3 linked regions of the Homo sapiens genome follow. The protein of the gene in region 1 purifies or fractionates together with the protein of each later gene. This does not show direct contact. Each region holds a gene or a part of one and is shown in the gene's direction. Other genes may lie near its edges. The genes, in order: SLC25A26, OCLN and MARCHF5.

Region 1 (3,653 bases):
CCTCTATTCTGTGAGACACAATATTGCAGTTAGGCCAATTAATAATCCTCCAGTGGCCTCTAAGTGTTGAAGTGAAAGGAAGAATCACACCTTTCTCATTTTAAATAAAAAACTCGGGCCGGGCATGGTGGCTCACACCTGTAATCCCAGGATTTTGGGGGGCCAAGGTGGCAGATGGCTTGAGCCCAAGAGTTCAAGACCAGCCTAGGCAACATGCCAAACCCTGTCTACAAAAAATACAAAAATTAGCTGGCCATGTTGGTGTGTGCCTGTAGTCCCAGCTACTTGGGAAGCTGAGGTGGGAGGGTCACCTGAGCTCAGCAGGTAGAGGTTGCTGTGGGCCACGATCGTGCCACTGCACTCCAGCCTGGGTAACAGCAAGACCCTATCTCAAAAAAAAAAATTAATTAATTAAAAATAAAAGCTGGAGATGATTAAATTTAGTGAGGAAGGCATGTGGAAAGCTGAGATAGGCCAGAATCTAGGCCTCTTGTGACAGTTAACCAAATTGTAAATGCAAAGGAAAAGTTCTTGAAGGAAATGAAAAGTGCTATCCAGTGAATACACAAATGATAAGTGTAACAGCCTCATTGCACATACGAAGAAAGTTTGGTCTGGATAGAAGATCAGACCGGCCACAACATCCCCTTAAGCCAAAACCTAATCCAGAGCAAGGCATTAACTCTCTTCCCTGAAGGCTGAGAGAGGTGAGGAAGCTGCAGGGTTTGAAGTTAGGAGAGGTTGATTCATGAAGTTTAAGGAAAGAAGTCATCTCTGTAACACAGAAGTGTAAGGTGAAGTGGCAAGTGCTGATGGAGAAGCTGCAGCAAGTTACCCAGATCTAGCTAAGATCATCGATGAAGGCACTAACACTAAACAACAGATTTTCAGGGTAGATGAAACAGCCTTCGATTAGAAGAAGATGCCATCTAGGACTTTCCTAGCTAGAGAGGAGACATCAATGCCTGGCCTCAAAGCTTCAAAGGACTGGCTGACTCTCTTGTTAGGGGCTAATGCAGCTGGTATCTTTAAGTTGAAGCCAATGCTCATTGACTCTTCTGAAAATCCTAGAGCCTTTAAGAATGGTGCTAAATCGACTCTGCCTCTGCTGTAGAAATGGAACAACAAAGCCTGAGCGACAGCACATCTCTTTACAGCATGCTTTCTTGAATATTTTAAGCCCACTGCTGGGACCTAGTGCTCAGAGGAAAAGATTCCTTTTAAAATATTTCCGCTCATTGACAGTGTACCTGGTCACCCTGGAGTTCTGCTGGAGATGAATGTTGTTCTCATGCCTACTATCAACATCCATTCCTTAGCCTGTGGATCAAGGAGTTACTTTAACTTTCAGGTTTTATTAAATTTCATAAGGCTACAGCTGCATCAACAGTGATTCCTTTGCTAGATGTGGGCAAAGTAAATTGGAAGCCTTCTAGAAAGGAGTCACCATTCTAGATACCAGTAAGAACATTAGTGGCTTCATAGGAGGTCAAAATATTGACCATGCTGGGACTTTGGAAGAAGTTGATTCCAATCCTCATGGCTGACTAGTGGAGGGAAACACATACTAGATGTACTGGAAATGGCAAGACCACCGTAGTCAGAAGTGGAGCCTGAAGATGTAAAGAATTGCCACAATCTCATGATCAAACTTGAACGGATGAGGAGTTGGTTCTTATGGGTGAGCAAAGAAAGTGATCTATTGAGATGAATCTACTCCTGGTGAAGATACGGTGAACACTGTTGAAATTACAATAAACGATTTAGAATATTTCATCAATTTAGTTGAGAAAACAGTGGCAGAGTTGAGACGGTTGACTCCAATTTTGAAAGAGGTCCTACTGTGGGCAAAATGTATTGTGTGCTACAGAGAAATCTTTCATGAAAAGAAGAGTCCATCAATGCAACAATTACTATTTTTAGAAATTTCCACAGCCACTCCAACCTTCAGCAGCCACTACCCTGGTCAGTTAGCAGCCATCATTCAAAGCAAGACCCTCTATCAGCCAGAAGATTACAATTTACTGCAGGCTCAGATGCTCATGAGCATTTTTTAGCAATAAAGCATTTTAAAATTAAGGTATGTACAATTTTTAGACATAATTGCTACTGCATACTTAATAGACTGTAGTAGAAACATAACTTTTCTGTGCCCTGGGAAACGAAGAAATTTGAATGGCTTGCTTTATTGCAATATTCACTATTATGGTGGCCAAACTTGGCCTGGGACCAAACTTGAAATATCTCTGAGTCATGCCTGTACTCTTGGTGAAAAGGTTCAAAGGTTATGGAAGCGTGGGCCAGGAATGTGTCCTATAATCCACAGGCAGCAGGCATTCAGTTTAGGGCTTAAGACACATCCCTGGCTTGCCTTTTAGATATGGAATCATAGTCCTTGGACTTAGTTTTTTAAACCTGTTTTGTAATTTTTTTATGTTGGCATCTGTAGATTTCCTCATCTTTATCAGCTACATAATCATCCACTGTATGTTTATACTGTGCCATAACTTATATCACCATCAGCAATGCCACAATGAAAATTTTTGAACAAATATCTGAGTAGGTATGGGGAGGGGGGGCAGTTTTAAAGAATGAATCCCCAATTTGTATCCTCGTGGCATTGTAGTTTTACTTTGCATTGCTCTGATTATTCTACATTGCACCTTGGCTGGTTAGCAGCACCTTCTGTGATACCAAGGGGACTGTGCAGGTGGAGGCATGCTGCCCCCTTCACAGCCACAGCCCATTTGCCTTTCATGCCTTTAGACAGAAAAGGAACACAGGGAATCCATGGAGGTTCAACTCGTTGTCGTGACGTCATGTTTTGGGGTCTCGAAGGACAAAATGCAACTGAGTCAGTGGGTGGAGCGGCAGCATTGCCCAAAAATCTCTTCACTGAGCAACCCCTGGAGATCACTTTAGAGGTGTGGGCTGGAAGTGCCTTCCAGCCTTACCTAGGATTCAGCTCTTTAACACCTTTTTAAAAAAAATCAATTTCATGTTTCAAAGGGAAAAATGGCATGAAAGTTTTAGAACTACTGTTGGGACACAGCTATTACTTGCCTTATTTGGGAGCGTTCACAAGCTGTTTGGTAGTTAGCCACTAATGAGCATGGTGTATTGAGCTGAGCAAGCTGTGGGTATTGGAATTTAACCTTTTTTTAAAATACGCACAACATTAAAAATCCTGTTTTTTCCCCTAGATTATTTGCAGGTGTCTTCCCTCGAATGGCAGCCATCAGTCTGGGAGGTTTCATCTTTCTGGGGGCTTATGACCGAACGCACAGCTTGCTGTTGGAAGTTGGCAGAAAGAGTCCTTGAAGCAGAGACAAGCCTCACCTCCACTTCTGTCAAGAGAGGGGCCTGCAGTGCAAACCCTCTTCCGCTGAGCAGCTGTCTGAACTATAGGCCCCAGTGCTGAAGACCAGTTGTGCTAAGATACCGGCATGGAGATTGTGCCATCCGTGGTATAGGCTGGCTGGTATGAAGTCATTGGCCTGTATGCCAGAGAGCTAAGAGAAGAAAACGGGGTCTGTGGCGGTACTCTGAACAATTTCCTCAGAACCTCTTAATAAATAAGTTTGGTAATGCTGAGGCCAGGCCTTTTAGAGCTTTCATTTGATCTGTATCTGATCTTTCATTTCCTGCCACCT
Region 2 (3,653 bases), on another chromosome or scaffold:
ATGAAATTCTTTCCTAATAGAAGATTGTACTAATGTATAATAGTTAATAATTACAAAGCACTATTCTGTTTTTTTTTTTTTTTTGAGGTGGAGTCTCGTTCTGTTGCCCAGGCTGGAGTGCAGTGGCGTGATCTCAGCTCACTGCAAGCTCTGCCTCCCGGGTTCACGCCATTCTCCTGACTCAGCCTCCCAAGTAGCTGGGATTACAGGTGCCTGCCACCACGCCCGGCTAATTTTTTGTATTTTTTTTTTTTAGTAGAGACGGGGTTTCACCATGTTAGCCAGGATGGTCTCGATCTCCTGACCTCGTGATCTGCCCGTCTTAGCCTCCCAAAGTGCTGGGATTACAGGCGTGAGCCACCGCGCCCAGCCCCTACAAAGCACTATTCTATGTACATCTATCCTTTCCTATTTAAAATAAAATAGCCAGGCTGGGCATGGTGGCTCATGGCTATAATCCCCACACTTTGGGAGGCCAAGGCAAGTGGATCACCTGAGGTCAGGAGTTAGAGAATAGCGTGCCTAACATGGTGAAACCCCATCTCTACTAAAAATACAAAAAATAGCAGGGCATGGTGGCAGACACCTGTAATCCCAGCTACTCGGGGAGGCTGAGACAGGAGAATTGCTTGAACCTGGGATGGGGGAGGTTGCAGTGAGCCAAGATTGCGCCATTGCACTCCAGCCTGGGCGACAGAGTGAGACTCCATCTCAAAAATTAATAATAATAATAATAAAATAGCCTTATTATCTTTCCTATTTATAAAGCCATTCATTCTTTCTGTAGAAAAGAACTTAAGCGGCCGGGCACGGTGGCTAATGCCTGTAATCCCAGCACTTTGGGAGGCCGAGGTGGGCGGATCATGAGGTCAGGAGATCGAGACCATCCTGGCTAACACAGTGAAACCCCGTCTCTACTAAAAAAAAAAAAAAAATACAAAAAATTAGCCAGGTATGGTGGCGGGTACTTGTAGTCTCAGCTACTTGGGAGGCTGAGGCAGGAGAATGGTGTGAACCCAGGAGGCGGAGCTTGCAGTGAGCCAAGATCGCGCCACTGCACTCCAGCCTGAGTGACAGAGTGAGACTCCATCTCAAAAAAAAAAAAAAAAAAAAAAAGAACTTAAGTAACACAGAACTGTATACAGAAAAAGAAATCATCTTAAATCCTACCATCAAGAAATCCTTATCACCAAAATATTAGTTAAAACAATCTCTCCAAGCAGGAGTCACCAAGGCACATACACCTTTCTTTAAGGAAACATCATCTTCCATGTTTCACTTATTTTCTTCCTGTCTTTTAAATCAACAGTTTATGGGTTTTTTTTTTCCCTCCCTTGATCACCTGGCTGAGATAGAATTTGTCCATGTAAAGTTACTGGATTTTTTTTTCAATCCATCCTTTTCATACTGTATTTTGTATACATACTGAAATTAATGTAGTTACACCACCTTTTAGAGGGAGATTAATCTCTTCTTGTTTATTTGTTCCTTTATTGATCAGTCAATCACTTACGTAAGTATGGACTTTACAGATACCTGTTTTATACTGTGAATTATAATCCAAGGCTGCTTTATTTTGTAGCTCTAATTGTTCTCGCTTTGACGGTTGGGAACTTTCAGTTGCTTCCCGTGTCCCTTTGACATACTCTTATTGTGGGGTTTTATCTTTAAAAAAAAAACAAACAAAAAAACTTCCTTGCACTGCTTATTTCTGGCTTTTCTTAACAGCAAGTTTTTTTTTTTATATCAATAATAAAGACCTACTTACTTTTAAGTTTTTTATGTGTAAAATTAGGTAAACAACTTTCAAATTTATGGTTGTATCATAATTTAAGAGTCATTTTCTATGGATAGACATTTAAGTATGTCTCCCCCTACTCCAGTAGTACCAGTATATACTGGTGAACCTCTCTGTTTTTGCACTCTTGTCTACTTATCTAATTTTTTTTTTTTTTTTTTTTTGAGACGGAGTCTTGCTCTGTCGCCCAGGCTGGAGTGCAGTGGCGCTATCTTGGCTCACTGCAACCTTCGCCTCCTAGGTTCAAGTGATTCTCCCGCCTCAGCCTCCCGAGTAGCTGGGATTACAGGCATGTGGCACCACACCTGACTAATTTTTGTATTTTTAGTAGAGACGGGGTTTTGCCATGTTGGTCAGGCTAGCCTCGAACTCCTGACCTCAGGTGATCTGCCTGCCTTGGCCTCCCAAAGTGCTGGAATTACGTGTGTGAGCCACAGTGCCCAGCCTGCTTATCTAACTAAAACTAATTCCAGAATGTGAAATTGCTGAGAGTCAGAGGGTACGTACCTTTGCAAAGTTGCAAAATTGCCCTCCAGAGAGACTGCACCAACTGTGTCTCCCTCTTGATACAATACAGGACTCATTTGATGCACATCTCATTAAATATTCTGCCATTTTTCAGTTGAGGTGATCTACTTTTTAGTTTTGACGTATTCACATCTTTATATAGTTAGATTTATGTATTTCTTTTATGGTTTCTATAGGGTGTTATAGATCTTTCTTAATTTAGTGAACATTTATTGATCACTTATTTTTCTTTGATGATGTGGAAATGCTGGAGCTAGAGACATAAAATCTTGTCCCCACCCTAAAAGAGCTTATATTTTAAGAAAAAAAACCTGACATCTAAACAATTTAGACAGTATGATTAATGCTGTATTTGCATCATGTGTAGAAAGCACTATAACTAACTGCTCATAGAAGAAATAAAGTCTTTGGAGGCTTCACAGTGAGGGAATCGTTAAGAGCTTTCCAGACAGAAGGGTGCGGGGAGGTGCATGATTACAGCCATAAGGAAAACATGATTGAAATCCTGAAGCATTTAACATGTCTCAGTTTTTAAAGGAGTTGCTGATGATGGGTACTGAGACTGGAAAGGTAGGAAACTGGATGAGGGGAGAAGTTAATGGGAAGCTCAGACCAGTTGTGTAGTGGGATATTACCTGATCAGCGAGCGCTCTGTGTTATAAAAGATCTTCCTGGTGTCAATGTAGCATGGGGACTGGCATGAGGAGAGATGAGAAGTAGCAGAACAGATAGTTACCTGCCTATGTGAGTGAAATGTGAAAGATACAGTATCATAAATGTCTCTTCACTGAATTCCTTCAGACCTTCCTGCTGATCATGAGTTTTAAGAGCTTTACGACTTCATTCTTTTAATTGCTTATATTTTTGTCATAAGCTGTCATTTTTAGCTCCAAAGTATAACATCAGGAATGTTACTTTTAAAAGAGAAAATGCCCCAGTAAACATATTCCTTTGTGTCTGTCGTTAATAGGCTGCTGCTGATGAATACAATAGACTGAAGCAAGTGAAGGGAGTAAGTATCCGAGATTGTTCTTTTAGGAAGAACTTTCTTTCTTCTTCTTTTTATTTTAATTCCCATACCTACTCATCTGGAGGAAGAGCTTTTCTATTACATGTTTTTCATTTTTTATTTTATATATTTTTTAAAAGTTGAAGTATACATACAGAAAAGTGTATAAATCAAAGTGTATAACATGGTGAATTTTCACAATGTGACCACATACCTGCGTATGCAGATCAAGAAATATATTTCCCAGTACCTCCCCACCCCCAGCACCCCCACCCTCACTTGTACTACTTTCCAGTGTTTACACTCTCTCCAGAGGGG
Region 3 (3,653 bases), on another chromosome or scaffold:
TGTCTGTTTGATAGAAAGGAGAAAGAACTTGCATACCTGTGTGGATATAATTGAATAACAAAGCTCTAATAAAAAGCTGACTTTTAAAAAAAAAACTAACTTAGCTTAATTATCTGGAGACGGTGTAAGAGAAAGAAAGCAGTAGTATGTTCTAATACTTCTCCTTAATTCTTCCTTTTAAGGAATAAAAGTAGAGAAATTAAATATTTAATAAGATGTGACGTTAAACTCATCTTTGGAATCCAATTTATGTGGTTTCTTTCATGAACCCTGCTATCCCTTTTCTGTGAAGTGGCAGGTAAGAAATAACCAAAGATCTTTGAGAACAGGCCTAGCATGGAAAAAAAGTATAGCAGACTGCTTACAAGAAGCATTCTAAGGCTGCTTCTTTAGCAGCAGTATAACTAAGGCTGATATTTAGTGAGCCTGTTCCATTACAGCCATACAGTTATAAATTGGTGTCAATCTCTTGGTTTGGTGTTTATACCATGCCAGTTGTTAAACATTTTTTTATAACCCTTGACTGTAACCAAGAGGTATAGGAAGGCAGCTTGGGTTCTGGGAAGGTCATAAGGAAAGAATGTCTTTGGGGGCAGAGGGAATTCAGGAAAAATTGGAAATAATTATTATATATATTGTTTTTTATAAGTGCTATTCATACTGAAATCAGACCAATGTTTTTGAAAATGTGGCAACATAAATGCAGATAATGAAGTGCTTTTCTAATATGAGAAGATTAATAATAAGGGCAAACAAAATGTCCTTGGTTCTCTGTTTTTCTCTAACATGCACAGGAAGAAATGATAGCTTCCTTTGAAGGGGAAGTAGTGTAGTAGAGAAAGTAGTGTTTTCAAACATTTGGAATTTGTGGACCATGTGATGGGTCTTCAGTGCATACCACTGATTTTAGATAAACACAAAAGAATAATTCAAAATGTTTTTATTGTAAGATCAAAGAAGTATTTTTAAATCAGTATCAGGAAAAGCAATGATTGTTCACATTATTGTACCACCACATGAATGGTGAAAGACTCACTAAAGTCCAAGTTAAGGTTTCATATTTAACTGATTTCTTTTCTTGCTCTTAGTTGTACTAAATTAGATAGCCCCACCTTTGAATTATAGAGTTGGGAAGAGCAACAATTAAATATTTCTATTAGATGTTTTAGATATTCAAATGGACACAAAAATTATTACAAGAATTCTCACTGAAAACTACATCAAGTTGACAAGTGTATGGCACTCGAAAGCAAAGTTGAGTATTTTAATTTTGGAGATGGCAATGTGTAGATCTGTCCTTTTGGTTGAATTCAGTTCTAGGAAATATGTTTTCAGGTTTAGTGCAGTAATTGAATATGGTTTTAAGTCTACCTAGTTGTTAGAAAAGAGTAAATCTTGGCTGGGCGTGGCGGCTCACGCCTGTAATCCCAGCACTTTGGGAGGCAGAGGCGGGCAGATCACGAGGTCAGGAGTTCGAGACCAACCCGGCCAATATGGTGAAACTATGTCTTTACTAAAAATACAAAAGTTAGCTGGACATGGTGGCGTGTGCCTGTAGTCCCAGCTACTCAGGAGGCTGAGGCAGAAGAGTTGCTTGAACCCAGGAGGCAAAGGTTGCAGTGAGCCAAGATCGTGCCACTGCACACAAGCCTGGGCGACAGAGCCGAGACTCCATCTCAAAGAAAAAAGAAAAGAGTAAAACTCTTTGGTTAAGCCATTTGTATCATTATTTAGTCTGCATATTTTGTTACTAAGAATTGTGGCCGGGCCGGGCGCGGTGGCTCACACCTGTAATCCCAGCACTTTGGGAGGCCAAGGCTGGCAGATCACGAGGTCAGGAGATCGAGACCATCCTGGCTAACACAGTGAAACCCCATCTCTACTAAAAATACAAAAAAATTAGCCAGCCTTGGTGGCAGGTGCCTCTAGTTCCAGCTACTCGGGAGGCTGAGGCAGGAGAATGGCGTAAACCCGGGAGGCAGAGCTTGCAGTGAGCCAAGATAGCGCCACAGCACTCCAGCCTGGGAGATAGAGCGAGACGCCGTGCTAAAAAAAAAAATTGTGGCGGGTCACAGTGGCTCACACCTGTAATCCCAACACTTTGGGAAGCTGGGGCGAGTAGATTGCTTGAGACCAGCCTGGGCAACAGGGTGAAACTCCATCTCTACCAAAAATAACAAAAAAAAATTAGCTGGGCATGGTGGCACACACCTGTAGTCCCAGCTACTCAGGAGGCTGAGGTGGGAGGATTGCCTTAGCCTGTGAGGTGGAGGCCACAGTGAGCTGTGATTGCGCCACTGTACTCCAGCTTGGGAGACAGAGTGAGACCCTGTCTGAACAACAAAAAAGAATTGTGGCCAGTCATGGTAGCTCACATCTGTAATCCCAGCACTTTTGAGGCTCAGGTGGGTGGATTGCTTGTGGTTACGAGGTCAGGATCAGCCTAGGCAACATAGCAAAACCTTGTCTCTCTACAAAAAAGAAAAAGAAAAAGAAAAAAAATTAGCCAAGTGTGATGGAGCACACCTGTTGTAAGTCCTAGCTACTCGGGAGGCTCAGCTGGGAGGATCACTTGAGCCCAGGAGTTTGGGGCTGCATTGAGCTATGATTGCGCCACTACCCTCTAGCCTGGGTGACAGAGTGAAACCAATCTTAAATAAAAGAGAGAATTATAATTTTACTCTCAAATGATATGTTCAAGCTGGTCACTATACTGTCTGTCATAGAGGTATGGCACTTGAGTTAGCCGCTTAAAATCATAGATATGTTTTAATGACATCAGTGTTATAAAAAAAAATGAATATCCGCTGGGCACGGTGGCTCACGCCTGTAATCCCAACACTGGGAGGCCAAGGCAGGCGGATCACCTGATATCAGGAGTTCAAGACCAGCTTGGCCAACATGGTGAAACCTTGTGTCTACTAAAAATACAAAAATTAGCCAGGCGTGGTGGCAGGCGCCTGTAATCCCAGCTACTTGGGAGGCTGAGGTAGGACAATCACGTGAACCTGGGAGGCAGAGGTTGCTGTGAGCCAAGCTCACACCATTGCACTCCAGCCTGGGCGACAGAGCAAGACTCTGTCTCAAAAAAAGAAAAAAAAAAGTATATCCTTCATTTGAGTAGGTATTGTTAGCATATTTCCTCTTGACAAAACAGAAAAACAGAGTATTTGCTGCTGCTGCTTCCCCCCGCCCCCCCCCGCCAATAGAGGTTGGGTCTTGCTATGTTGTCCAGGCTTGTCTCAAACTCCTGGGCTCAAGCAATCCACCTACCTTGGCCTCCCAAAGTGCTAGGATCACAGGCATGAGCCACTGTGTGCCCAGCCTGCCGCTGCATTCTTAACATGCTGAAGATACCTATTCAAGGGCTGCAATTTTAATTATATTCACAATTTTCCATGCAGTTATTAACAATGACTCAAGCCAGCTGTTGTCTGTAAATGAAGCCATGTGTGAATTGGCTTTCAGGTGGTGGGCTCTTCATTGCTGCACACAAAGCTAGTGCTCTAGCTATGCTGATTCCAGCACAACTTTTCAATTCAAGTTTCAAAAATAATTGTTGGTTAAAAGAAAATATCTTCTTCTAAAACTTTTAAAAAGTTGCTTGTATTTCTTGATTAACATGTTACATTCGTATATACTAAGAGTTGATT

What was found.
Region 2: the proteins of SLC25A26 (region 1) and OCLN purify together in Homo sapiens (affinity purification with mass spectrometry; one large-scale study listed by BioGRID and IntAct). This does not show direct contact.
Region 3: the proteins of SLC25A26 (region 1) and MARCHF5 purify together in Homo sapiens (affinity purification with western blotting; one study listed by BioGRID). This does not show direct contact.

The regions. Positions count from the first base shown.
Region 1 is NC_000003.12:66,374,487-66,378,139, forward strand, and holds part of SLC25A26 (mitochondrial S-adenosylmethionine carrier protein), read left to right. Parts: intron 1-3,203; coding exon 3,204-3,321; 3' UTR 3,322-3,653. UniProt on the Homo sapiens protein: Mitochondrial S-adenosyl-L-methionine/S-adenosyl-L-homocysteine antiporter.
Region 2 is NC_000005.10:69,548,248-69,551,900, forward strand, and holds part of OCLN (occludin), read left to right. Parts: intron 1-3,296; coding exon 3,297-3,338; intron 3,339-3,653. UniProt on the Homo sapiens protein: May play a role in the formation and regulation of the tight junction (TJ) paracellular permeability barrier.
Region 3 is NC_000010.11:92,311,557-92,315,209, forward strand, and holds part of MARCHF5 (E3 ubiquitin-protein ligase MARCHF5), read left to right. Parts: intron 1-3,653. UniProt on the Homo sapiens protein: Mitochondrial E3 ubiquitin-protein ligase that plays a crucial role in the control of mitochondrial morphology by acting as a positive regulator of mitochondrial fission and as an important regulator of immune response.